7 linked regions of the Homo sapiens genome follow. The protein of the gene in region 5 purifies or fractionates together with the protein of the main gene of each other region. This does not show direct contact. Each region holds a gene or a part of one and is shown on either strand. Other genes may lie near its edges.

Evidence for each region.
Region 1: the proteins of BTNL3 (region 5) and ECEL1 purify together in Homo sapiens (affinity purification with mass spectrometry; one large-scale study listed by BioGRID and IntAct). This does not show direct contact.
Region 2: the proteins of BTNL3 (region 5) and PDZD8 purify together in Homo sapiens (affinity purification with mass spectrometry; one large-scale study listed by BioGRID and IntAct). This does not show direct contact.
Region 3: the proteins of BTNL3 (region 5) and PLXNA2 purify together in Homo sapiens (affinity purification with mass spectrometry; one large-scale study listed by BioGRID and IntAct). This does not show direct contact.
Region 4: the proteins of BTNL3 (region 5) and ITGA6 purify together in Homo sapiens (affinity purification with mass spectrometry; one large-scale study listed by BioGRID and IntAct). This does not show direct contact.
Region 6: the proteins of BTNL3 (region 5) and NDUFB3 purify together in Homo sapiens (affinity purification with mass spectrometry; one large-scale study listed by BioGRID and IntAct). This does not show direct contact.
Region 7: the proteins of BTNL3 (region 5) and CGRRF1 purify together in Homo sapiens (affinity purification with mass spectrometry; one large-scale study listed by BioGRID and IntAct). This does not show direct contact.

What each region holds. Positions count from the first base shown.
Region 1 is NC_000002.12:232,485,035-232,489,322, forward strand, and holds the start of ECEL1 (endothelin-converting enzyme-like 1), read right to left. Parts: upstream 2,801-4,288; 5' UTR 2,685-2,800; intron 1,721-2,684; 5' UTR 1,620-1,720; coding exon 834-1,619; intron 234-833; coding exon 165-233; intron 58-164; coding exon 1-57. UniProt on the Homo sapiens protein: May contribute to the degradation of peptide hormones and be involved in the inactivation of neuronal peptides.
Region 2 is NC_000010.11:117,284,941-117,288,440, forward strand, and holds part of PDZD8 (PDZ domain-containing protein 8), read right to left. Parts: intron 860-3,500; coding exon of another isoform or gene 831-859; exon of another isoform or gene 754-830; intron 532-753; coding exon 1-531. UniProt on the Homo sapiens protein: Molecular tethering protein that connects endoplasmic reticulum and mitochondria membranes. PDZD8-dependent endoplasmic reticulum-mitochondria membrane tethering is essential for endoplasmic reticulum-mitochondria Ca(2+) transfer.
Region 3 is NC_000001.11:208,041,885-208,045,384, forward strand, and holds part of PLXNA2 (plexin-A2 precursor), read right to left. Parts: intron 3,327-3,500; coding exon 3,183-3,326; intron 2,859-3,182; coding exon 2,624-2,858; intron 1,320-2,623; coding exon 1,177-1,319; intron 483-1,176; coding exon 214-482; intron 1-213. UniProt on the Homo sapiens protein: Coreceptor for SEMA3A and SEMA6A. Necessary for signaling by SEMA6A and class 3 semaphorins and subsequent remodeling of the cytoskeleton. Plays a role in axon guidance, invasive growth and cell migration.
Region 4 is NC_000002.12:172,486,586-172,490,085, reverse strand, and holds part of ITGA6 (integrin alpha-6 isoform b preproprotein), read right to left. Parts: intron 3,064-3,500; coding exon 2,948-3,063; intron 2,823-2,947; coding exon 2,633-2,822; intron 2,540-2,632; coding exon 2,456-2,539; intron 2,359-2,455; coding exon 2,279-2,358; intron 2,126-2,278; coding exon 2,048-2,125; intron 1,961-2,047; coding exon 1,858-1,960; intron 1,548-1,857; exon of another isoform or gene 1,437-1,547; intron 602-1,436; coding exon 428-601; intron 1-427. UniProt on the Homo sapiens protein: Integrin alpha-6/beta-1 (ITGA6:ITGB1) is a receptor for laminin on platelets. Integrin alpha-6/beta-1 (ITGA6:ITGB1) is present in oocytes and is involved in sperm-egg fusion.
Region 5 is NC_000005.10:180,987,489-180,991,645, reverse strand, and holds the start of BTNL3 (butyrophilin-like protein 3 precursor), read right to left. Parts: upstream 2,801-4,157; 5' UTR 2,618-2,800; coding exon 2,569-2,617; intron 1-2,568.
Region 6 is NC_000002.12:201,082,001-201,086,250, forward strand, and holds the end of NDUFB3 (NADH dehydrogenase [ubiquinone] 1 beta subcomplex subunit 3), read left to right. Parts: intron 1-3,458; coding exon 3,459-3,615; 3' UTR 3,616-3,750; downstream 3,751-4,250. UniProt on the Homo sapiens protein: Accessory subunit of the mitochondrial membrane respiratory chain NADH dehydrogenase (Complex I), that is believed not to be involved in catalysis. Complex I functions in the transfer of electrons from NADH to the respiratory chain.
Region 7 is NC_000014.9:54,523,406-54,526,905, reverse strand, and holds part of CGRRF1 (cell growth regulator with RING finger domain protein 1), read right to left. Parts: intron 1-3,500. UniProt on the Homo sapiens protein: Able to inhibit growth in several cell lines.

The sequences.
Region 1 (4,288 bases), on a different chromosome or scaffold from region 5:
GTCTGCACCCAGGAGGCTGAGCACTCGCTCCATGAACACCCTGTATGCTGCCAGGATCTGCACCAGGGGAGGGGGCTCACCCAGGGACAGGGACAGGCCTAGCCTGGATCCACCCCTCCTGGGGCCCCAGGCCTTCCCTGCCTCCCCATCCCATGCCCCAGCACCTTCTCACTGTCCTCATCCTGAGCGAGGTACAGGGTCCTCTCTGGCAGGGTGAGCCCATCCTGGTCAATCTGGGGAGGGAGACAGGGGCCACAGGTCAGAGGCCCACACCTCAGGTTCCCTAAACAGAGGGAATTCCCACTCCAATGCCCAGAGAGCAACCAGACATCCATGAGTACAGCCACAGAAGCACGCAGACCCCAGCTCCTCTTTCCACCCAGACGAGATGGCCAAAGCCCCATCCCTGACTGTCCCAGCCTGCGGATGCCCAATCTTACCCCTGTACGTCTGCACTTTCCTTATCTGTCCGGGGCATTCGTAGGTCCCCCACTGACAGTTGGGACCCCTAGCTTTGGGGCCAGCTCCAGACCTCGCGGAGACGTCAACCCAGCCCGCCGGCGCGCCTCTCCCTCCTGGCCCTCACTGCCTGCCAGAGGGCTGGGAAATTGCGGCTCCCGCGGCTCCTCTAAACACCGCAATTACCCCAGGGAAATTACTTGCGCCCTCCTCCCGCGCTCTGCCTCTGTGCGCTCCCCTCCCCTCCCCTCTCCTGCTCGTCTCTTCCCTCCTCTCCTCTCACGCACCCGCCTCCCGCGCGCAGGGACCCCTGGGCAAGGCCACTGCGCCCCGGATCCGCGGCCGCTGGCAGGGCGCTCAGGGGGCGCACTCACGCGGATGACGTAGCGCGAGGAGTTCCTGTCGTCCAGGCTGACCGTGAGCGAGAAGAGCGCGGCGGCGCTGTACACGCCCTGCGCCTTGTACAGCAGCCGGTTGAGGTCCCATCGCGCCGCGACCCCCGGACGCTCCTCCGCGCCGCCCAGGTCCCAGCCCCCGCAGTCCTCGATGACCTCTAGCATGGGTCGCGGGCCCAGTCGCTCGATCTCGCGCATGTCGAGGCACGAGCGGAAGAAGGCGCGCACCTTGCGCTGGGCCGCGCCGCCAGGCCCACCCCCGGGCCGCGCCAGCAGGCGCCGTAGGCGCTCCTCGTTTTGCTCGCCGATGGCCGCGATGGTGCCATAGGTGAGCTTGTCGTCGGGGATGGCGTGGCGCCGCAGCCAACCGCCGCAGGCGAACGAGTAGAAGTCCTGGCATGGGTCGATGCTGGCGTCCAGGTTGGCGGCCAGGAAGCGAGCGGCGCGCGCGAAGGCCTTGCGCTCAGGGCAGCCCTCGGGACAGGCGCCGCCGCCGGCCGCGACCGGGCCCAGGTACTTGAGGGCCAGCATAGCCGCCAGAATGGCGCAGAGGCCGGCGGCGAACACCAGCCCCGACAGCAGGCACACCTCGCGCCGGTTCCAGCGCGGCAGCCCGGACCGGGCCCCGGTGGCGCTGCGCGCAGCGCCCAACGGGAAGCCCGGGGGCAGGGAGGCCCCGCGCGCGCCCCCCGCGCCGCAGCGGCTCACGTACTTGACCTCTTGGAACTCATCGTAGTGCGCCGTCAGCGAATACGGGGGCTCCATGGCGCCGAGGCCGCCGCGGTGCAGACCTGGGCCACCTGGGCTACGGGATGCGCGTGGCCGCCGGCCTCCTCGTGGGCCTCCGCATGGCCCTGGGGCCGCAGCTGCGGGAAGGGCGGAAGCAGGCTCAGGAGGCGCCGCAGCCGGATGGGGCTCAGGGTCACCGCGAGGAGGGACACAGGCCTGGGTGCAGAGGCCCCAGCCGCGGGCCTCATTCACTGCGGAAACCAGGGACTATGAGGGTTCGGCGGGGCCACCACCCCCGGGTGCACAGTGGAGTCTTCCCCCCTGTCCCCTCCCTGCACACACTTGAGGGCCGCAGGGTTGGGAGGGCTCTTATTGGAAGCAAGAGGCGCCAGGCAAGGGGCCTGGCACGTAGTGGGCCTTCATTGAAAGGTCGTCCCTCTTCCCCTTCGCCTTTCTCTTCCACGACCTGCCCCAGCCAAGGCCGGGTGGAGTGGGGGAAGAAGCGGAGGCTGGAGTGAGGAGGTGCGGTCAGGGGCGCGTCTATGCGACACTTTCAGCTCTCCGCGCTGGACCCAGACAGACGCTCCGCAAAGCGGCCAAAGAACCAAACTTTGTCCTCGCGGAAGTCCGCGGGATCGACCACGCCAACCCCGCTCCCTGGCTCCTTCTGCTCGGTGGCCCGACGGCCCACTCGCCCCTTCCCTAGGGGCGCGCGCCAACGCCCCAGGGTGGCGGACACACAACCCACCCACTGGACGGCCCTGATGGAGAACCCGAGACGGGTTCCCTCCCCCCACTCCCACCATCTCTGTCCCCGCCCCGAGCCACTCCTGGCTTCAACAGGTTCTCCCCAGAACCCAAACTTGGGCGAAGTTTCACCCCCGGCGGGGAGCGAGCTGGCTGGCGACCCCCGAGCCCCGGCGCCGTGCGGCGCAGTCCGCGGAGCCCGAGAGCCGAGCCCGGGAGCCGCAGCCGCAGCCGCAGCCGGAGCCGCAGCCGAGAGGACGCAGACAAAGCCGGGAGGCTCCGCGCAGTGGCGGCGGCGGCGACGGAAGTGGCCGCGGTGGTGGCCTCAGCGGCAGGGACTCGGGCGCCACTTACCCGGCAGGTGCGCGCCCGAGCCGGCGGTGACCGAGCGGGTCGGGCCCGAGCGGGGGCCTGAGCCGCAGCGCAGCCGAGCGGGCGTCCGGTGTCTCCCAGCGCCCGCCGCCTCCTCTGCCGCCGCGCCGAGCCCGCCGCGCCGCCCGCCTGCCGGCCCGAGGGAGGGGGCGCGCCGGCGGCTCCACCCTCCTCCGCCCGCCCCGCGCGCCCCTCCTTCCTCCTGCATCTCTCGGGCCACCTGGCAGTGGGGCGGCAGCGCGGACGTGGGTCGGCGGCCGCGGAGACAGGCTCCCGGGGGTCGTGCGCGGGCTGCGGTCGGGGACTCCGGGTCCAGCCGCGTTCCGAGACGAGTGAGGGCAGCGAGTACTCCCGTGAAGGGTCCCCTCCGATCCAGTGTCCCCACTCCCAGCCGCCCACCAGCCGGCTGGAAAGGGGCTGGAGCTGGAGATGAGGAGCCGAGGACTCCTCCGAAGGGCTGGGGGCGGTGTCAGTAGTGCCTGTGTCTGCCGGCACAGTCCCTGGCGCAGAGCGCACCTTCACTAACCGGCTTTTTTGTCCTCCTTGGAACCCCTGCCCTGGATGGGCTCTCCACTAGGGCTTCTGGTTGGCCTCGCTCCCTTCACCTAGCCCCTGGTGAAGGGAGCTCAGCGGGGACTCCTGCAAGAAGAGGGCTTGCCGCCCCCTTCCCCATCCTCCCCAGCCTTGGGTGGCCCTGGCACCACGGCTCAGGGAGTCCCTGGCCCAGGTAGGAAGAAAAGGCCAAGAGAAGAATGAGCGAAGTCTCCCTGCTGGAGCCAGGGAAGGCTGGAGCCTGCCCCCTCTGGCCAGCAGCCCTAGGCCTCAGACAGGCCCTGAGCCTCAAGACCCTGGTATGTGGACTGATGGGAGGGCAGGCTGGGTGCAGGGACTCTGAATTTACTCACCGCCTGCCTTCTTCCAGGTAAACTGGCTTTTTAAATGTGGGGCCTCCCCACTGCCTGGAGGCAAAGCCCTCTTCTACCTGCCTGCCTGCCTTGGCCAGACAGCCTGGCCCTAATGGGACACAGAGAACTTGGGGCTCCTTGGAAGACTGATACTGTTTCTGGAGTCTCTGCTTTCTCTGCCCTACCCTGCCTCTGGTGTCTCTAGCAGGAGACCCCACAAAGCACCAGCCCTCCCAGGTCTGCCGGCTCCAGCCCGTAGGATTGGCTTAAACAATGTGTGAGAGCCATGGAGCACCATCTAATAAAAATCACAACAAGGTAGGGACTCTGATAACCTACCCATCATCCTGTTCTCCTCCTCAGGGTCTGTGCATCTGCCCAGCTCCTGAGCCCTGGCCCTGAGTGCCGGCCTCTGCCCCTGTCTTGCCTCTCCCTGCCTCTTCATCTCTCCATCTCTAAGCCCCCACTCCGGATACCCTGCCTCCATCTCTGGCCACCCCAGGGTTGTCCTCTGCCCCATGCATCCTTCTTGGGTCCTATTAATTCTAAAGAGGAAAAATGGAATTACTTATAATGTGGCGATTCCATGAAGGGGGGAGGGGAGGGCAGGGAGGTGGCAAAGTGGCTCTTTGTGCTTTTAATCTGCATTTTTCCCTCAATGTTCCCGTCTCCAGGAGGATA
Region 2 (3,500 bases), on a different chromosome or scaffold from region 5:
TCGCTTGTGGTCGTGGTGGCACAGGTGGTTTGAAAGCAGATCCTTGGGTTGGTTTTGACACTTGTGCTGGGTCTGTTATCTCAGAAGTTTTTAGGGGTGGAGGTTTATTTCCATCTTTGGACTGAATTTTCGGTGGTAGTGGGTGACTTCCTACAGCTAATTTACGGTTTAAAACTGGTGATATAGCTCCAAGGGGTTTAATAGAAAGTGTTGTTGGAACACGTTTGGGACTATGACTTAATGATTGTGCCTCATCTTTGAACTCATTTTGTGCTCTGACATCACTTGCCAAGTCTTCAAATTCAGAATCCAGCTCTCTACTTTCAGTATCTACTGTCAACCCGGCAGCTTCCTCTTCATAACCCGATTGGCATGAGCTTGACAAAAAGTTTTCTTCCAACTGGCCAAAGTTATCTTGCAGCACTGCACCTTGATTACTCTGGCCAACAGGCCTTTCATAGTACACCAGGACTCGGTCACCAGCCTGCTTGATAAGCTTCAACACTTGCAGTGTTGATGTGATTTTCACACCTGGTTTAAGATTTTAAAAGGGAAAACATGTAAATTATTGCAATAGAAATTACTACATTTGTTAAATGTATTTAATTAAATATATATAATTGCCATTACCTCTGGTTATTTAACTAATAGAAGAATAATAGGAAAATCTCAACAATATTTTATTTGGCTTTTGGATGAATCAGTGTGCTAATTCTCAAACCCTGAATGTGCTGATATCCTGGAGATGTTTACCTTTTCAAACCAGATGATGACACAGGATCCCAAAAAGAGTGCCAGGATGCTAACTCCTAATTGCTTTCTATCTCTTCTTAGGTTAGATGACATCTCTCAGTTTGAACTGAAGAAGTGAACAGAGAGAGATCTATTTAAAGGATTCTATTAATGGCTAAATCAGACTTAGAGTGAGGGAAAGCTGTGATTCCACTGAAGGAAATTCTAAAATACTCCAGGGATTACAAGACATATGATGAAAGATTCAAATTAAGAGAGCAGTGCTTGAAAATAATGTAGCAAAATACTATACTATGAATAACGTACTTTTACAGATTCTTTTTATCAACCGTACCCATCACATTCATCTTTTTCAAAACCAGAAAGAACAAGTAAGGGATAAACTGCTTTAAAGTTAAACAAGCTGGTTACTATCTGCATCTGTAATATCTACGTTGTTTTTATTTTTCTTATTTTTTAATTGTTACACGTAGTTTAAAATTTGAAAGGTATAAAGGTATAAAAAGATGTACAGTAAAAAATATTCTTTCCACCTCTGTCTCCCAGCCATACTGTCCCTTCCCTGACCTTAGTAGCTTCTAGTGTATGCTTCTATAGATATTCTAGGTGTGTTAGCACTTAAAGGTGCTACTTGTTTCCTGTCACTCTTCCCACACTCTCTAAAACAGCACTTGCCCAAGCTATCCCTTTATGTAGAACTTAGAGAAAGAATGAGAAGGCTCTTTGTTTTCCAAAGATCTTAGGGCCATCCTAAATAAATCTAAGTAACACCACCCCTTTCTCATAACTTGACTTCAGGTTTCCTCAACCTGTGTCCTCTCTTACTTCAGCTGTCTGGGAAGATCAGGCTTTAGACTCGGTCATCACTTGGAACTTGTCCACATCAAAGATCTTTCATTTTCAATTAGTCTCTGATCACAAGCTCCTATTTTTCACCTCTTACAATCCTGTCTGCTCACTACTTTTAGGCAACTTCCCGGCCCAATCATTCCTCTTTTCTTCTCATGGTCCTGTTGGTCTCCTGATACCACTTGCTCTTCTATCCAACCCTGTGTCTCAAGATTACAACGATGTTCTTACCAATATTTTATTTTCTCGTCCTCATGTTTTTTGATCCCCAGCTTTACTAGCCCCACTATTGCCCTTTCCTGCTCTTGAGCTTGCCGCTTGGATCTAGCATCAAGTTAGCCATCCATCTTTGGCAAGGTGTTCAGGGCTGCTTAGCATTCTTTTGATCAGTCTGTAAACAACTAAGTCTCTCAAACATCAGCTGTAAATCTTTCCTGTTTCCCTAAAGTCTACTCTCCCTACTCTCTTTTACTCTGTGCATGCTATCACCTTATTTGCCAAAAAGATCAATATGAAGCTACCTTTTCTCCCTACCATCATTTTTAGTATTATCTTACTTCAGAGGAGAAAATATCCCTCTATCTGTATACTTACTTTGGATCCAATCCTCCTGTCTCCTTCCTGACTTTGCTCTATCAATTATCCTTAAACTTTTTCTTCCTTTTCTTTAAAATTTTTCTTTTTCTTAGTTTCCACAACACTTTACACAATTGGTTCTGATCACCTCTCCTCTAGCTTCTTTTTCTCCACCTATACCACCTGCACCTTATATGCAACTGTTACCAAAGTTTGCCACTAGTTCTCTCACCCTTTTTTGCTCTCTCCCTGGTAAATTACAGCCACTCCAGTAGTCTCAAAAACTATCAACTTTTTCTTTGGTTTCCCTTCTTCTTCACTTTAGTTCTACATTCCCAACTACTGGACATCACCACCTGGATGTTCCTTTGGGACTAAATATTCAGCAGAGCTAAAACCTTTCTTTGACTGTCTCTCTGTCCTCACTACTATCAATCAACTTGCCACTCCCAGTTAACTCAATTTGAATCCTAGGGATATTTGACTCCCTAGAAACATTCAGCTGTCAACTCAAACTTGTGATTTCAGCCCATTTTCCTTCCCTGTTCAGATCCTCCTGATAACTGGCCTTCACTTTAGTAATAAACAGCTTTTAACTGCAATCTCTCACTCAGACCTTCCCTACTTTAAACACCAAACATATTGCTACGAAATTTTCCTAAAGCATTTGCCCCTTTAGCCTACAAACTTATCACATGGAAATTCAGAGCTTTCTAATATGGTGCTTCATTATTTATCTAGCTTTAAGTTCTACTACGTCCTTCTAACCATACTATGTCTCAGCAAAATTATAGTTTGACATATGCATAAATGAAAAATTAGTCCATCTAATGATCTACAGTAGGCAAAAACTTCAACTCAATCTGAACTCATTTTTTATGACTAAAAATCTGCCCTCGTCTCATCTATTCCTCAGTCATCAGGTGTTTTGTGGAGATGGCCATTGCAACTCTCTCTCAGGAATACACCATTCAAGTCTGGATTTTTCTTTTGGAATATTTCAAACACACTCAAAAGCTGAGGAAACAGTAAAATGAATTCCATTTTGAGCTTCAAATATAATATTTTGCCAATCTTATTTCAACTATCATCAATTATATACCCATATAAATGAATCAAAGCGATATAAAAATGTTTTGAAAAATATCTGTTGACATGGGGAAAGTTTACAACATGCTAAAAGAAATAAAGACTATTACAAAAATGCATAGTTTAGAAATTTTTGTTTCCTAAACAAAAATTGGGAAAGGCATATATTTATGTACAGAAAAAAACAAACAAACAAAAAAACAAAAAAAGAGACATACAAAAGCTTTTCTGTT
Region 3 (3,500 bases), on a different chromosome or scaffold from region 5:
TCACACCTGGGTGACTTCAGACTCTGTAGTCTCCCTGGGCTGAGGGAAAGTCAGATTCTGCCCTGCAGAGACGTGAGGACACAGGCTGCTCTGAATGGGTGCCCCTTCTGGGGAGTGGGCCTTCTCATGCTGCTTGTGGGGCCTGCTATAATGAGGTGCTCTGTCCAGGTTCAGACTCCTGCCACCCTCTCCACCCACTGCTGCGGGCCAGACCTCCGGAGTAGCAGCTTGGGGTGGTTCTTGTTCTCCAGGTTCTTATCGATGAGGTCAGAGAGCAGCTGCTTGAGGACATCAGTGGCATATTCCAGGCGGCCCTGCAGGCCGGTCATGATGAGCGAAGCCACGTTGCCCCGGTCGCGCATGGAGAAACTGCGCTGCAGCTCCAGGGTGCGGATGAAGGTCAGCAGGAACACCTTGTTGTTGATGAGCTGGGCAAAGAGCTTCAGGGCCTTCTCCACGTGCTGCTGCCCGTTTCCTTGTACCTGGGGTGGGGTGTGGTGGAGGCGACGCCCTCAGAGGACAGGCATCGGGCCTCCTACCTGAGGGTCTCACTGAGGGCCTGCTGGCGATGACACTAGCTGTAGGACCCTATGTTTGAGGCCTATAACCAACCCCACCCCATTCCACTCACCCGTGATGATGTAGGAACAGCTGGCTCTAAGGTCGACAGTCTGCTCTGACCTTGCACTGGGCCGGGGAGGCTGGGCTCCATGCGGAGCTCTCAGAGGGGAGGCTGCCTGATTTTCCCAAGGATAGAATAGGAGATGCCCCCTCAAACTTCTTCAGTTTACTAGTCTCCCCTTAATCTCCTCTGCCTGATTTATTATCTTTAGTAAAACAAACCAACAAATGAACAAACAAACCTCATAGAATCCTGTGTCTTTCTTTAAGCCATCTTAAATCCATTTTAGAATGAGGCAGGATCTTAGTTAATTAGTTCAGTCATTAATTAAAAAATGACAAACAATGAGCTTTACCCTGGAACCATCCCAAGGAGCCTGGGTGCCCCCTCAGCCGTAACCTTCCTGATAGCTCTGTTGCTGAGATGCTGTTACAAACTACTGACCCCTCTTCCCTGCTAACCTTACTCAGTACTGCTGAGTCTCATCTGGATTTCCTAGGATACCCTGGGCCTGCATCCCTGCTGGGTGGCTGGGCCCAGGAGGCAGGCATTACCTCCAGCTCCCGCAGGACGGGGTGGTCCTCGATGCCCGGGAACAGGACTCGCATAGCGTAGGTACGATAGTCCAGGTAAGGGATTCCTGAGCGGTCCAGGTCACTGGTCAACTCATTGATATCCGTCTGGAGCTCAGCAAAAGCTATGAGAATAAGCAGACGGAGAGGCTCGTGGGGAAGCCCCAGTCGGGGGAGGAGAAAGAGGGAGAAGAAGTTTGCAAAGGACGAGGGGAGGACCTTTTGTAGAGACTCTGAGGATTACGGGAGTGTGTCTCCAGAGGGCGGGGCTACTCCCAGCTGTTTTTAGGTGGTGGGGAAATGGGTGATTTTTATGTTATTTTCTCCTCTATACTTATCTATAATTTCAAATTTTCTCTTTACATATTACAAGTGTAGTTTCAACAAGGAAAAAAAAGTATCATGATTGGGCCGTTTAGTAAAGATCACGGAGATGCTGGAGGCAGGTGAGAGACCATGGCTGAGGGGGTCCAGCAAAGACCAGAACAGGCAAAGTGCTGCCCTTTTCTAATCAAGGTAATAAATCAAGATGCAAAAGCCTAGGGGAGGTCTGGTCATGAGACGCTCAGCTGAGAGCCGAGTTTGGGAAGGCAAGGGCTTCAGAAGCCTCACCTTGGTGGTGGCACACCTGTCTTCCTGGCTCCTTCCTCTGCCAAACTCACCAGCCCTGTTGCCAGGAGGAACCTTGGCTCCACATGTCCTATTTCCCAGCCCAGCTCTTCCCTGTCATCCAGCAGAGGGCTTGTTTCTGATCTTGACATTTGCAGCAAAAGGAGAAATGTTTTCATTCCTAATTGAGCTGTTTACCCAGAGAGCCTGCCAGGTCCTCAGCCTGAGAGGACGCCAGGTACACTCGTCACCTCGAGGCTGTGGTTGCGTGGGACATGGGAGAAAACACAATCTGCACTCCCACACACGTCCACAGCCAAGGACACCAGCAAGTGGCGGCCTTCAGAGCGCTCAGCCTGCAGCACTGATGGAAAACAAACCCTGGGGGAGATGAGGCAGGTGCTTGTCTGCCTTTGCTGCCGCTGCTCCCACGTGCTGCGAAGACAGTGTGCAGAAAAACAAGAGCTGGACACTCCCATGGGGGATCTAGAGTCTGGGGCTGTGGAGCCTGGGGACTCTGACTGTGGGGACATTGAGGCCCTGAGAGGGAGAAAGTGTTTGCCAGATTGTGGGATGGGTCAGGGCAAAGAAGGGACTAGAACAATGCAATTGGACCTGGGTCCTCATGCAGTGGGCATTCTTCATTGGACATCTCTGACCCTATAAGCAAAAGAAGTTCTGGGAAAACAGGGGTGAAAGTGGAATGCAGAGGCATGGCTGGCAGCGATGGGAGTAAAGATAGGAGTTGTCTGCAGGGAGAAGGGCAATAAGGCAGGTGGAGAAAGAGGGACCCAGCAAATGAGGGTGTGCTTCCACTAACCTTCCTTGCACTCCAAGGCCACACGGGACTCCAGATTGTCCATCTGCATTTGCAGCCGCTTGAGAGTGAGGTCATTTTCTCGAGACTTGCGCTTGTAGGCAATGAGGACGATGATGACGATGATGAGGAGGAGGCTGCCGCCGGCCGCGATGCTGACGATGGCTGGCAGGGTCAGCAAGCTGTCTGAGATGACACTCACCGAGCCAGGCGAGAACACCATCCCGCCCACGTGAACCTGTGCATTGTACACATACAGACGCACATGGATGCACACAGGTGTAGAGCCCGGGCATGCCAGCAGATCCTTACAGTGCGAGGAAGGACATGACAGACCACAACCACACAGTGCAGCTCTAGATAAAAAGCAATTTCCTGCCTCGGCATCTGCCTTTCTTTTCTTGTGTTCTCAGCTTATACCCAATTTGATGTAGGACCCAGAGATGAGGAGATATGGAGGGGGTGAGTCAGGCAACGAGACAGAAGAGAGCCTTTCCTTAGGACAGATCACACATGCACCACGAGGCGGGAAGGAGGCATTACAGACGCAGGGCTCACTCACCATGACCTTGTGCTGCCCGGTGAGGTTGGGAGGCTCGCAGAGAAGCTGGGTCTCAGATACGGTGACAGCACAAGGGGTCTCTCCGATGAGCACAGTGTAGTTGAGTTTGGCCCCTCCAGAGGCAGGAGGGCAGAGGTTTTTGCCCTGTAGAGAATAGCAGTCTTTATAGGCATAATTGACACATGCACGCACAAGTTAATTGCCTACTTAAAAAGAGATTAAGGAGACGGGGAAGGGCAGCAGTGCAAAAACCAGGAAATGACTCCTTGGCAAGTTTTTGTGGAGGGGACTTCTAACAGCCATGATCTAGAGAGAAAG
Region 4 (3,500 bases), on a different chromosome or scaffold from region 5:
TTAAAAATAAGCATAAAAAGCTTTCAAGGTTACTTGCTGAGATGCCATTATCTTTTCCAATGAGTTTGGTTCTACTTGGAGTGAACACTGGCTGGCCCCTGGATAACAGCAGCTACTATTACCCCAGGAGCATCCCCCAGTTCTCCTTATTATGTAACATACTGGGTCATGATGAAACATCAGAAAATACCATTTGCCTCAGCAAGCACTGAATGACTCTGCCTTATGTACTATAATGGTCATTAACCAGCAAAAATGCCTCAGCCTCCCTCAGTTACCCAACTAGAAAAGAGAAATTGTGACAACCAAAGAGAAAGTCAACCTGCCAGAATATGCCACTTTCCTAAGAACAGTAATGATTTTCCCCTAACAAGTTAGTTTCTCTAATTTGCATTTATGGAGACATTAGATAAATCTACCGACATACCGTTAGGTTCAGGGAGTTTATCTCCTTTTGTGGCTCACAAGTTACCTTTTCCAATCCTTTGGATTCTACTTTCACCAAATAAAGCAACCATTTCCCATTGCTAATTTCTTTTGGCCACTGAATGTTCAAGGTTGCTGTGCCGAGGTTTGTAAGAGGTTTACCTAAGTTTATTACCTGTTAGAAAATAATACATATTATCTCAGTCTAATCTTCTCAATGTAAATTTAAGTAGCAGCTCCTTTTACCAAGAGAAAGAAGCTAAAATATCTAACGTAATCCTATAATAAAAGCACAGGCTCCAAAAATGGACTATAGATAGGGCATTCAAAATAAAGACTTGTGCCTAAAGATTTTTGTAAATAAAAACAAAAAGGTCAAAGGACAACTGATAGCTAACTCGTTCTAGGAACAACTGCTGTATGCAACAGAATCAGCAGTGTAGATATACCATGTTCTCAACATACGCCCAGGGAAAATCATGTGTGAATTTGTGAACTGCCCTGTAACCACCCTGCTTGGCCAATGACAAGTCCTGGGCCAAGGCAGTGTACCAACAACCTGCTTCTGGAAAACCCCATCCACTGCAAAAATGAAGCTGCCTCTGTCCCAGAGGAGATTCTGCAAAACCATTATTAGGACAGCCATGAATCTGAGAGTCCAAGCTGGGAACAGAGTGACGTCCTGCGGCAGAAGCCAAACACAGGAGGTAAGAGCCCTCTTGGTGTCGAGACTGTTCCAGAACCCAAAGACTTCTTTTCCAGCTGCACCTGCATAGAGATCATAACCACCACCACCACCTGCCCCAGCTGTGTCTATAATGCTAAGAGACACACAGAGGAGAATTCAGCCTCTTCATTCTGCCGGAGTCAGGTGGGCCCATGCTTGCCATTTGAGGCTTTCACCACAGTGGTCACTATGCCTTCAGGAATGTGATTTCAGCCACACAGACCTAAACCCATGTGTGAGTTACGAACAGACTCTGTACCCTATGTTTATGTTTATTCAACAGGACAGAGAGTCACTGTGATTGCCTACTTTGAAATGGTTCAGAGCCAGTCACTGCCTTTCCTACAGGCATATACCAAATCTACATTCACCACAAAAACTGGGCTTGTGAAAGGTAGGCATACATTAATATTCTTTCAACCACAAGCAGTGAGAAAGATGACCTTATAAAGGAGGAAGGAATAAATCATAACGCATTCTAAACTGAACTGGATTCTGAACAGTGACAATTGTTCTCCATCCTGGAGGATAAAATTTTTACTATAAGCCAGTATGTTCTTTAAAAGCTGGCAAACTAATTTTTAACTCATGATTTACTTACAATGCTTATTAATATTGCTGATTTATTAAAATGACATACTCAAGACCATACCTAGTATATGTCAGCTTTTGGTATAATGAAAAGACCAACTGCTCCAACTTACCCTGAATTCATACTCTATTAAACTTCCCACTTCATCTTCAGATTTCATAGCTTGCTCGCCAACAACTGTACCTCCAAAATACACCTGGGAAGGTTTAGCAACTCTGTCAAATTAAAAAACACCAGTTTTAATGAGGATTGTAAATGGTTCTTTCAAACATTGATTTGTTATGCTAAACACAAACACTTACCCCGAGACCGATAAAAGCAGTTCAATAACCACTTTTGCTTTAGCTGTAATTGGAGCCAAATTATCTTGATTGCTTGTTCTGAAAATGAAAAGGAAACAATAGGGTTGTATTTTACCAGTCAGTTTTCTCACTACAATTAGACTTCTTTTATGAGGTAGATCAGGGCCAATTCATTGACTGCCCATATTTTCATGAAATAATTCTGAATGGAGAGGTTGATGTAACTCTTACGTTTCTAACTTCAGATTAATATCCAGATCTGGGGTGTCAAAGGTGACTTCAGTTGTACTTAAAACCAAATAAAAAGTGACCTAAAAAAACATAAATAGCTGTTAACACAGGCCATGCATACAGACACTGCAATGGTATTTAAAACAGTAAAATACAGTATATGAAGGCATCACCTACATTTGAATTTCTTTTAAAAGGATTTCCGAGCTCACAGTCAGCTTGCGAGCCATTCTGGTTGGCAACACAACTCAACTGTTTCTCCTGTAAAAGAAACACACGCTAGGTCACAATCCACTCATTTGCCACACAGTGTTGATTTTTTTCCCCTCTCAGCTGGTCTCTAACAATACTTACAGGGAAAGCCCTCAGTTCTCTATATGCAGAATAGGTTAAAGTGTCTGGAAACGTTGCAATCAGTTTAGCCTCATGGGCGTCATCGCCATCTTTTGTGGGATTCCTTGGGTTGGAAGGGCTGTTTGTCACTGTTATTTCTAAAGCAATATCCTTCTGATCTTTTAGAACTAGTTCTGGTACACCTTTTTGACTATTAAAAATAAGAAAACAAGAACAAAAAGGCAAAGTCCTCAATACGTTTCCAGTAAACTTTCTTAACACAAAGCCACCATGAAGCCAGAATCATTTTTGCTAGTGCTACACAACGATTCTTACATTGGTAAATAAGAAAATTTGTCTTGATTTCCTTCTCGGGTGCAAAATTTATATTCTAGTTTAAGGTTGCTGTTACATACATTGTCGTCTCCACATCCCTCTTTTAAGAAGTGAACCTGTAGGAAAACGAAAACTATTGTCAATTTACACCATTCAGGACTCAGGAAGGCATCGATGTAGGTGACTGGCTATTCCACACAGTTCATTTCCCTGTGTGACAATTACCAATGCAGAATTCAAGCTTTAAATGTACTTTGCCACACATCAAATTTCCATTCTGTCCTTTAGTAAAATTGTGTTTGAAGAACACTTTGACCAGGGCATGGAGGCAGTGTGGTATAGAAGAGTGTGACCCAGCAGCCACACAGATTTGGGTTTGAAACGCAGCTCTACCCCTTACTTAGCTAGCAAGTCACTTAACCTTTCAGAGTCCAAGTTTCATCATAGGTAACGTGGAGATACCACCATTCTAACTTTATAGGGCTACTATAAGAAGTATCAATAATAATGATGATACCAACGATTATAATACTCGATTTACATATCTTAACTC
Region 5 (4,157 bases):
CAGCATGGAGAATGGGCTCCACAGACAGGGATTATGCCTAGGAATGGTGAGCGCTACTTTCTTTTTGCATTTGCTTCTTGGTTTTGTGGTCAACTAAGTAATTTTTCTGGTGCAAATCACACTTACAACTCTGTATGATTAGAGTTCTTCTTAGAGAGACCACAAACGATGGAGGCCCACTCCCTTCACCTTCTAAGTACCCACCCCCTTTGATTGGCAGTGTCTCTTGATTCATTCACATGTATCCATTTATGGTATATGGATATATCTGTGTGTGGTATCTGCATGTGCATCAGAGGCAAAGTGGATCCCATGTGTGAATTTCCAGATAAGTGGATATTTTTAATTTTAGCACTAATTATTTCTAAGTTTAAGTACATTTTATAAATCTTGCTGAAATGTATTTCACTCATGCATCTTTAAGAGCATTATTAAGTGAGGCGTGACTTTGCAGCCTGGTGTCAGACCAGCTGCTGACCTGGTGTAGCAGATGTTGAGGCCCTGCTCCTCACCACCCAACCCTGAGTCCCCCTGGAATGGGATGGGCACTTGCCTGCCTGCTGACAGCTCCGCCCCTGGAGCCTGGCCTCTGCCTCTCTGCTGATGGCTTCTTGCAACCTTTGGAACCTCCTCAGCCCAGGCACAGGGTGGCCAAGAAGGTTTGCGATTTTAATAGTCCCGGAGGGGCACATCTCACCCAGTGGGGAACAGGAAGCAGTGGATGTTGGGAAGATCCTGAGCCATCGTCTATACAGTTCCTCCAAAGGACCCAGTGGGACTGGGTCCCAGTTGCCACCGCAGCAACCTGCTCATTAGCGCACCCTCTATGGCTTACCTCCCGCTGGCTTCACTCTCTGCACCCTGTCACTTTTGTTTCTGAGAACAGTCTGCTAAACAAACCACCTGCAGAAAGGCCCTTGCTCTAGATCAGCTTTTGGGACCCAGCCTGTCAGCTGGGCTGCTGTGAGTGCTGCCTTCAAGGCTGTGTGAGACTCTCAAGCCAGGCAAACAGTTTTTAGTATATGTCTGTTTCTCCGGCCAGCCTTGCTGCTGTCATTTGTCTTGCCGACAGCGTCTCCCTTTACTCCTTCCCCTGGGGAGAAGCAAGGAATGACACTGTCTGTTGTCGCAACATACTGTGCCCCAGCGGAGCTCCGTGCTGGACGCTCTACATGCACGAGTTCACGCAATCCACACAGCAGCCCTTCAGCCACAGGAATGTCACAGATGTGATCTTATTATCTCTATGTCATCATAAGCAAAAATTGATGCTAATAGAAGTTATTAGCCACAAGCTCATAGAGAAAAGGAAAGTTTTAAAAATAGTGTTACTTCCTCTAAGGTCATTTCCAGCATGCCCTGCTGCCTCATGCAGAAACAGAAAGCAGACAGAAAGGCTTGTCAGAAAATGGGTGAGAATGTACTTAAACGGAGGCTGTCTTGTGAGTAACATACGTGGATTGTGATTTTTTGTTTTTGTTTTTTTGAGACAAAGTCTCACTCTGTCACCCAGGTTGGAGTGCAGTGGCACGATCTTGGCACACTGCAACCTCCGCCTCCTGGGTTTAAGTGATTCTCGTGCCTCAGCCTCCCGAGTAGCTGGGACTACAGGCGCTCACCACCATGCCCGGCTAATTTTTGTGTTTTTAGTAGAGATGGGGTTTCACCATGTTGGCCAGGCTAGTCTCAAACTCCTGACCTCAGGTGATCCACCCACCTCAGCCTCCCAAAGTGCTGGGATTACAGGTGTGAGCCACCACGCCCTCTGAGCACACATGGATTTTGATCCCCTTATTTCTGTTTTGTTGGCTTTGTTTAGCAAAACAGTCATAGGTAGACAAATAGCAGGATGGAACTGTTCCAGACAGAAAGTGAACACAGTCAAATGAACTTTTTGTGGCTTAACACTGACCACCCAGAATCCAGTGTTCTACTCCAGCCCCTATCTCTCCCTGCAAAATTTATTTGATTACTGAATATCCTATACACCAGGCTTTGTCTTGATGGTTACTAGAAGGAGAAAGAAGAGTGGGTTTCTGCCTAGACTATGCCAGGTTCCAACTTACTCCTCACTTAAAGGTCTGGTGCTCTACCCCATAACTACAGGTGTTTCTAACTCAGCATGTGCATAACTGGACACATTGTCTTTTTCTCCAAACATCCTAAACAGTGCCACCTTCCACCCAGGCACCCAAGTCAAAAACCTGGGGATTTTATTAGAGACTTCCCCTGCCTAAGCCCCACAGCCCACCTGGGGAGAACAATGTGTTTACCTTGGCGTTCTCAATGTGTTCCCTCCCTGCTCCCAGGGCCTGCTCCCATTATTCTGAGCTACTGTGATAGTGCCCAAGTCCTTGAGAAACAGCCCAAGGAGTCTTCCTCAATTCCTGCTGCCCTGTGCTTCCCACAGCTCCTGGCATTGGTAGTTTCCAGCCTGAGGCCAGGAGAAGCTGGAGAATGCAAGCACCAAAGATTCCTGCATCTCACTGTGCTGAGATCATTGTCATGAATGAACTCAAAATATTATTCAACAAGGAGAAAAACAACAGTCCAAACTGAAAGGCTTACCTGACACCAGCTCGTAGAAACTGAGAACCAAAATGAGCACAAAAGCCATGGATATTCCTGTGGGTTGATCTCACACTATGAAAACAGATGACAGCAGGGGTGGATGGATGATTTGGAGGTCAGGCCAGCTGTCTCAGGCGCAGGAGCCGTGGAGAGGCTCTTCATGAACGATGTCAAACTGTGCATTTCTCCCTAGAGCCTCCCTAAACATGGCTGTATGAATGAGGAGTATGGGCACTGGAGTTTGAGTCACTGCATTTATTGGCAGGTCATAAACATCTATCTCAGACCAGAGAAATGATAATGGAAAGAGAGTAGGGTACACTTGGAGGGACTTTGTTCTGGGTTGTGCCCCACATAGGTGGTAAAGGAATGCCAGATGCAGAGATATTTTCAGGCTTAGTCTGGCAGGCAGAGCTGCAAGAGAGAGTGAACATCTGTCCCTGAAAGAGAGATTGGACGGGCGCAGTGGCTCATGCCTGTAATCCCAGCACTTTGGGAAGCCAAGGCAGGTGAATCACGAGGTCAAGAGATCGAGATCATCCTGGCCAACATGATGAAACCCCGTCTCTACTGAAAATACAAAAATCAGCCAGGCATGGTGGTGCGCACCTGTAGTCCCACCTACTTGGGCGGCTGAGGCAGGAGAATTGCTTGAACCGGGAAGAGGGAGGTTGCAGTGAGCCCAGATTGCACTACTACACTCCAGTCTGGTGACAGAGTGAGGCTCTATCTCAGAAAAAAAAAAAAAAAAAAAAAAAAAAAGAGATCATCTCAGCACAGGGTAGTGAGGCAGTGAATTTGCCCAGGCACACAGGCCATGCCCCATGAGACTCATATTTCCTGGCACAGCATGAGGTAATTCTGCCCATCCCTCCCTTGTCTTGAGTTCAGGGACAGGACTCTGATCATGAGGCCAGATTGTGTTGAACTTGCCAGAACAACCAGGACCTTGATCTCCAAGGATCCAAGGTATTGAGAAGGGGACCAAGACGATGTTTCAGGCCCGGGGGTAAGGCAAAGGCAAAGATGCATTCATTCAGTCATTCATTAGATGCACTAAGCCAGGACACACACAGTTAGGGATTATGCAGTGATTTCAAGTCTAGGGACATGCACAAAGAATAAGCACTTACTAGATCAGAAAGCAGGTTTCCACGGAGAGCACCACGAAGGACAACGAAGGTAAAGAGCAATTTAAAAAGAGGAAACCCCATGAACTTAGAAATTGTTAATAACACAATTTTAAATAACTAATGGGTCTAAGAGAACTAATAATAGAAGTTGAAGGTAATTAGACTAGAAGAAGAATGAAAACACTACATTTAAAATACTATGATGCATGTAAGGCAGTTCTTACAGAAAGGCTTATCCTTAAGTGCTTGTATTAGGAAAAAAGAAGTCTGAAATTGGCTGAACAAAGCATCTGAGTTAATCAGAGTTAACTCTTGGATCCTGAGGGTCTCTGGCCACTCGCCTTGTCTTTTCTCTCCCTTCACTTTTCTTTTTTTTTCCCCCACAATCTGTAAACATGTAATCCTACCTTAAGTACAAAGCCATTACAAATGCAAAAAAATCAAAGATTACAA
Region 6 (4,250 bases), on a different chromosome or scaffold from region 5:
AGAGATGGGGTTTCACTGTGTTAGCCAGAATGGTCTCGATATCCTGACCTCATGATCCACCCACCTCAGCTTCCCAAAGCGCTGGGATTACAGGCATGAGCCACCGCGCCAGGCCTAATTTTTGTATTTTTTTGGTAGAGATGGGGTTTCACCATGTTGGCCAGGCTGGTCTTGAACTCATGACCTCAAGTGATCCGCTCGCCTCAGCCCCCCAAAGTGCTAGGATTACAGGTTTGAGCCATCAGGCCTGGCGTTGTTTGTTTGTTTGTTTGTTTGTTTGTTTTGGGAGATGGAGTCTCCGTCGCCCAGGATGGAGTGCAATGATGCCGTTTTGGCTCATTGCAGCCTCTACCTCGTGGGCTGAAATCATCCTCCCACCTCAGCCTCCCGAGTAGCTGGGACTACAGGTGCATGCCGCCATGCCCAGCTAATTTTTGTATTTTTTGTTGAGACGAGGTTTTCCTGTGTTGCCCAGGCTGGTCTCAAAATCCTGAGCTCATGTGATTTGACCACCTCAGCCTCTCAGAGTGCTGGAATTACAGATCTGAGCTACAGCACCCAGCTTGAATTATTTTAATTTTTGATGCTATTGTAAATAGTATTTTAAAATCTCAACTTCCAGTTGTTCATTGCTAATACTTGTAAACACAGTTGACTTTTATATGTTGAGTTTATATCTTGTTACCTTGCTAAATTCACTTTTTTTTTTTTTTTTTTTTTTTTTGAGACGGAGTCTCACTCTGTCGCCCAGGCCGGACTGCGGACTGCAGTGGCGCAATCTCGGCTCACTGCAAGCTCCGCTTCCCGGGTTCACGCCATTCTCCTGCCTCAGCCTCCCGAGTAGCTGGGACTACAGGCGCCCGCCACCGCGCCCGGCTAATTTTTTGTATTTTTAGTAGAGACGGGGTTTCACCTTGTTAGCCAGGATGGTCTCGATCTCCTGACCTCATGATCCACCCGCCTCGGCCTCCCAAAGTGCTGGGATTACAGGCGTGAGCCACCGCGCCCGGCCGCTAAATTCACTTTTTAGTTCAAGTAGATTTTTTTTACAGATTTCTTAGAATGTTCTTCATAAACAATCATTCTGTCTACAAATACATTGTTACTTCTTCCTTTTCAATCTGTAAACTTTTTATTTCTTTTTCTTGCATTTTTGTACTGGCTAACACCACTACTATAATGTTGAATGAAAGTGGTGGACGTCCTTGCCTTATTCCCAACTGGGAGAAAACATTTGGTGGGTCACCACTTAGTATGATGTTTCTTACAGTGATCTCCTAGGTGCCTTTTATCAAGATGAGGAATTTCTCTCTATTTCTAGATTACTAAGTGTTTCATTGTTTATTATTTCTTTTTTTTTTTTTTTTTTTTGAGACAGAGTTTTGCTCTTGTTGCCCAGGCTGGAGTGCAATGGCGAGATCTTGGCTCACCGCAACCTCTGCCTACCAGGTTCAAGCGATTCTCCTGCCTCTGCCTCCCGAATAGCTGGGATTACAGGCATGTGCCACCACACCCGGCTAATTTTGTTTTTTTAGTAGAGACTAAAACGTTGGCCAGGCTGGTCTCAAGCTCCCGACCTCAGGTGATCCACACGCCTCGACCTCCCAAAGTGCTGGGATTACAGGCCTGAGCCACCGTGCCCATCCTGTTATTACCATTAATGGATATTGGATTTTGTTAAATGCTTTTTCTGCATCTATTGAGATGTTCATAGTTTTTCCTTTTTATTCTGTTAATATGGCGAGTTACTTCTATTAATTTTCAAATATAAACAAATCTTGCATTCCTGGAGTGAACCCTACTTCATTATGATGTATTACCATTTTTATATGCTGTCGGATTCAGTTTTCTAAAATTTTGTTAAGAATATTTGCACCAGGTGTGGTGGCTAATGCCTGTAATCCCAGCACTTTGGGAAGCCAAGGCAGGCGGATCACTTAAGGCTGGAAGTTTGAGACCAGCCTGGCCAACATGGCAAAACCCTGTCTCTACTAAAATTACAAAAATTGGCCGGGCGCGGTGGCTCATGCCTGTAATCCCAGCACTTTGGGAGGCCGAGGTGGGTGAATCACAAGGTCAGAAGTTCGAGACCAGTGTGGCCAACATAGTGAAACCCCGTCTCTACTAAAAATACAAAAAATTAGCTGGATGTGGTGGTGTGCGCCTATAATCCCAGCTACTGGGGAGGCTGAGGCAGGAGAATCCCGTGAACCCAGGAAGTGAAGGTTTCAGTTAGCCAAGATCGTACCATCGCACTCCAGCCCAGGCGACAGTGCGAGACTCCATCTCAAAAAAAAAAAAAATACAAAAATTAGTCAGACATGGTGGCGGGCACCTATAATCCCAGCTACTCAGGAGGCTGAGGCAGAGAATTGCTTGAACCTGGGAGGCAGAGGTTGCAGTAAGCTGAGATCACACCACTGCACTCCAGCCTGGGCAACAGATTGAGACTCTGTCATAAATAAATAAACAAACAAACAAACAAAAATTAGCGGGCATGGTGGTGTGTGCCTGTAATCCCAGCTACTTGGGAGGCTGAGGTGGAAGAATCACTTGAATCCAGAAGGTGGAGGTTGCAGTGAGCTGAGATTGTGCCACTGCTCTCTAGCCTCAGTGACAGAGCAAGACTCCATCCGCCCCCGCCAAAAAAAGAATATTTGCATCTATGTTCATGAGGGATAGTATTCTGTAGCTGCTTTTCTTCTAACATCTTTGTCTGGTTTTGGTATCCCAATTAGATTTAATTAGCTCTCGTATTTCCTAAGTCATATTTCTAGAGTTAAATAGTTTTTGTTTTTCATAACATGATTTTTTCATTGGCTTGTCCTTATCAGACCAGAGCAGGGTATCAATCTTCCAAAATTCAGGCTGCTATGGTAGGGAGAAGCAGAGATCCTTTTGAATAGTAACAGTAATGTCAAGTGTTACATACTCCATACTCCTCTGCCAAAATATATCATGCATGAGCCTGTTTAGTCTTTATGATATTATAAAGTAGATAATAATCATCATTGAATAGAACAGGAAGCAGACCATGACAGGCTAAGCATCTTGCCCAGCCTACAAGATTGTGAATCTAATATAAGTGGCATACCAAAGATTAATACCAAGTCTCTAACTTCATCTTTCCGTGATGTTGTAATGACTAGTGTGGGCAGAGCCCATCTGACCTGTGACAGATAAGCTGACGTGAGTCTTGCATTTGAGGGTTCTGTAAAATCCTGAGGCATATGACTATTAAATGTGAAACCATCAAGTGTTTATTCTTCTATTTTATATGTGAAACTTGGGCATATACTTAATTATCCTATGCCACAGAAAGATTCCTATTGCGATTCACTTAAATGATCTTCTGTAGGGTAGCATTTAAGTCAATTAGAAAGATGAAAATTAAATGTCTTCAACGTATATACACACACGTTGTGTATGATTATAATTTTTTCTTTTTTTTTTTCTAGCAATGAAGCTTGGAGATACATGGGTGGCTTTGCAAAGAGTGTTTCCTTTTCTGATGTATTCTTTAAAGGATTCAAATGGGGATTTGCTGCATTTGTGGTAGCTGTAGGAGCTGAATATTACCTGGAGTCCCTGAATAAAGATAAGAAGCATCACTGAAGATAATACCTGGAAGCATCATAGTGGTTTCTTAACTCTCCAAAATAAGATTTCTTCTCTGTAGCCTACTTGTCTGGTTTATCCCTTACAGAATATTAGTAAGATTTAATCAATTAAAATATATATATATGCCAATCTGCTTTTGTCATTCTTAAAAAAAAAAAAGTGTCTCAAGCCATATCAGATTTGGTTTAGAATACATAGGGGGTTGGAGAACAGCAGTAGTGCGTTCTGCATATAGCAGGCAGGCATCATATATTTGGCTGAGCAAATGGGCATGTTCTAAGAAGTTTTTTTTTAATCTTTTTCTTTTTTTTTTTTTAACTAGTCCTGACCTAGCTGGCACTAACAAGTATTTAAATGGGAGTTGGCCTTGCTGTTTTTTTTTTGAGATGGAGTCTCGCTCTGTCACCCAGGCTGGAGTACAGTGGCGTGATCTCGGCTCACTGCAAGCTCTGCCTCCCGGGTTCACACCATTCTTCTGCCTCAGCCTCTCAAGTAGCTGGGACTACAGGCGCCCGCCACCATGCCCAGCTAATTTTGTTTTTGTATTTTCAGTAGAGACAGGGTTTCACCGTGTTAGTCAGGATGGTCTCGATCTCCTGACCTTGTGATCCACCCGCCTCAGCCTCCCA
Region 7 (3,500 bases), on a different chromosome or scaffold from region 5:
AGGATCCCTGTGAGAGAAGCAGTAATAAAACAAGGAGACCATTCATGAGGATAATAAAGCCAGAGTATTGGGAGATGAAAGTTTTAGGTTGTAGAGAATGGAGGTTCACAAACGCCTCCAAACATGCCATGTACATTGTGTTTTTTTCTAACCCTTTTGCTTTAATGTTAGCTCTTACCAGAGTGAATAAGCTAAAATATAAGGAAGCTATTTACAAAAAGCAGAATTCCTGAATCAAATTAATTCAACTCAACTTATATACACTGAGTATCTAACTTTCAATTTCATTAAAGACTCTATATTGGAGACATGGAAACGCAAATCCAAATATATCATTACATAATAACAACAACAAAAAAATCCCAGCAACCCACCCCTAGTAAACAGAACTAAATGACTCAGATTAAAATCGATTCTCTGGTTTTCTTTTTTTTTTAATTATAAATTTTAAAATATGGCCAGGGCGCAGTGGCTCACACTTGTAATCCCAGCACTTTGGGAGGCCGAGGTGGGCAGATCATGAGGTCAAGAGATTGAGACCATCCTGGATAACACGGTGAAACCCTGTCTCTACTAAAAATACAAAAAATTAGCTGGGCATGGTGGCATGCACCTGTAGTCCCTGCTACTCAGGAGGCTAAGGGAGGAGAATTGCTTGAACCTGGGAGGCAGACGTTGCAGTGAGCCAAGATTGCACCACTGCACTCTAGCCTGGGCGACAGAGCGAGACTCCGTCTCAAAAAAAAAAAAAAAAAAAAAAATCTTAAATATAAATAAAAAGCATGTGTGTTTTTTTGTTTTTGTTTTTTGAGACAGGGTCTCACTCTGTTGCCCAGGCTGGAGTGCAGTGGCATGATCTCAGCTCACTGCAGCCTCAACCTCCCAGACTTAAGCAATCCTCCAGCCTAAGCCTCCTGAGTAGCCGGCACTAACAGGCATGTGCCACCACGCCCAGCTAATTTTTGTATTTTTAGTAGAGATGAGGTTTCGCCATGTTGGCCAGGCTGGTCTTGAACTCCTGGACTCAAGGATCCGCCCGTCTCAGCCTCCCAGAGTACTGGGATTACAAGCATGAGCCACCACGTGCAGCCTCTGGTTTATTTTCAAGTTAAATCAGGTCTCTAGATTATTCACCCTCTTCTGCTATATGTCAGGCAGTTTGGGTACAGTGGTGAAAAAAAGATTTTTAAACTATCTACACATCAAATGAAATAACTTTTTTAAATGTCACAAATATTGTTACAATATTATTTTAATGTTCTGTATAGACATCTTTAATGATACCCACTTTTCCACAGTTTAAACAAATGAATTTTACTCTGTTGAGTATAACTCCTATCAAAATCCTTCTATTTCCCCATAGGAGAAAGATAATAAATGATATGCATCGGTATTTTAAAAATTAAAATATTTCAGTATTCATGCTGTACATCCACACATTTAAATAATTTTTCATGACTTCAGTAATACTACTGTTGGTTAGCAACTAGTGTGCAGGCATAGCTAAGAGGGCTACTTACTGGCTATCTTTTCATTTGCCTCAAACATTCGCAAGGCTGGTTCTATTTGTGACTATTTCTGCCTGAAAAGCAGATTGATGGATTTCCTCACACTTTCTGCCTCACAAGTGCCCTGTGTTTTGCTCACAATGTATCAGCTCTTCTTAGTTTTTCAGTGTATTTTCAGACCTGTGGAACTGTACTGCAGGAAGGAAGGCCTTGCAGCTGGTAGGTTTTTCATTGCGGGTCCTGCTCAAGAGCCAGATGTGACATTGTAGCAGGTTCTAGCCTATGGCCACAGAGGTGGGAGGTTATTGAACCACCACTATGCTGTACACTTGATTTTTTATTTTATTTTTTGAGACAGAGTCTCACTCTGTCACCCAGGCTGAAGTGAAGTGGTGTGATCACGGCTTACTGCAACCTCGACCTCCTGGACTCAAGCAATCCTCCCACCTCATCCTCCCGAGTAGCTGGTAGCTGGGTGTACACTTTAATCAGGCATGCACAACCTACTATCTTTTAAACAAATTAGTTTTATCTGTGTCATATCTCAAAATTTGGTTTTCTCAAGTAAAAAATATCAGAATGAACTGTTATCTATTATAGGGAAGGAGCGGGGAGGGGAGTGGCCGAGATCCTAGTTTCCATCAATTCATAGGGTAATAGTATTTACAGCTAAAGAGGATGAATAAGAAATTTTGTACTTTTTGGGGCCAAGAACAGTGGGTCACGCCTGTAATCCCAGCACTTTGTGAGCCTGGGGCAGAAGGACTGCTTGAGGCCAGAAGTTTGAGACCAGCCTGGGCAACACAGCAAGACCCCATCTCCACAAAAAACATTTTTTTTTTTATTTAGCCAGGCACGGTCATGCACACCTGTAGTCCCAGCTACTCAGGGGGCTGAGGCAGGAGGACCACTTGAGCCCAGGGTATTGGGGCTGCAGTGAGGTATGATCATACTACTGCATTCCAGCCTGGGTGGAAGAGCAAGAGCCTGTCTCGAAAAAAAAAAAAAAAAACATATATTTTTCCTTACAAATCAAGATTTACTTAAGCCTGATGATCTATTTGACTAAGTAAACTGATTTCTGACCAGTTATTAGATTCTGAGAGTTAGAGGCAGGAAAGATGAATAGACAAGAATGGTCCATAGACGCAAGGGAGCAGGACGTTGCAAATGAAGGTCAACTCTGTAAAATACTAGAGAGAGAGCATTAACTCAGCCCTGAAAGGCTCCCACTGGATTTGATGACTGCTGGGGGTCAAAAGTGCAGGGCAGAAGTCGTAATTAGTGACCTCAGAGAAAGCCATTTCAGTAAAGGGATACAGGGAAAAGTCAGACTGCACTGCACTGAGGAGTAAAAATGAAGCAGGCTAAGAGAAGGAAAATGCAAACAGCTTCTAAGAAGCTGGCTGTGAGGGGAAGAAGAGAAATACGGCAGTAGCTAGACTAGGATGAAAAGCAGAGAAAGATCTGGCTTATTTGTTTTCAAGAAACCAGAAATGTAAGCAAGTATAGAAGGGACAGGGTCTCGGCCCAGAAAAAAAGCTACAGAACTGTATCTAGGACTGCCTACTCTTTATTTCTATTGAACTGTCACGAAAGAATTTCAAAGTCCAAAAGTTCAAAATTGAATTCATTGCCTTTCTTTGGAAACTTGCTATTCTTTCTGTACTCCTCATTTTTCTAACAGGATCTGGCTATGGAGGACCCATAGGAAGAACCTGAGTCTTCTTAGACTCCTCTGTTACCTGTCCCATCCTATGCTTTAGCCATAACTACTGTTTCTTTAATGTATCACTCCATTTCTCATCCACGAAGTAAACACCTATCTTCCAAGATTCTACTCAAAAAAAAAAAAGGAGGAAGGAATAAAGAAAAAAAAAGTAAGAGAGACTCAGCATATTCTTTTTTATGAAGGCTTTCCTGAATATGCCTCTTCACCTTAACAAATTTAAGCATCTCTTTCTTTACAATTCTAATGGTTCCTATATGGTC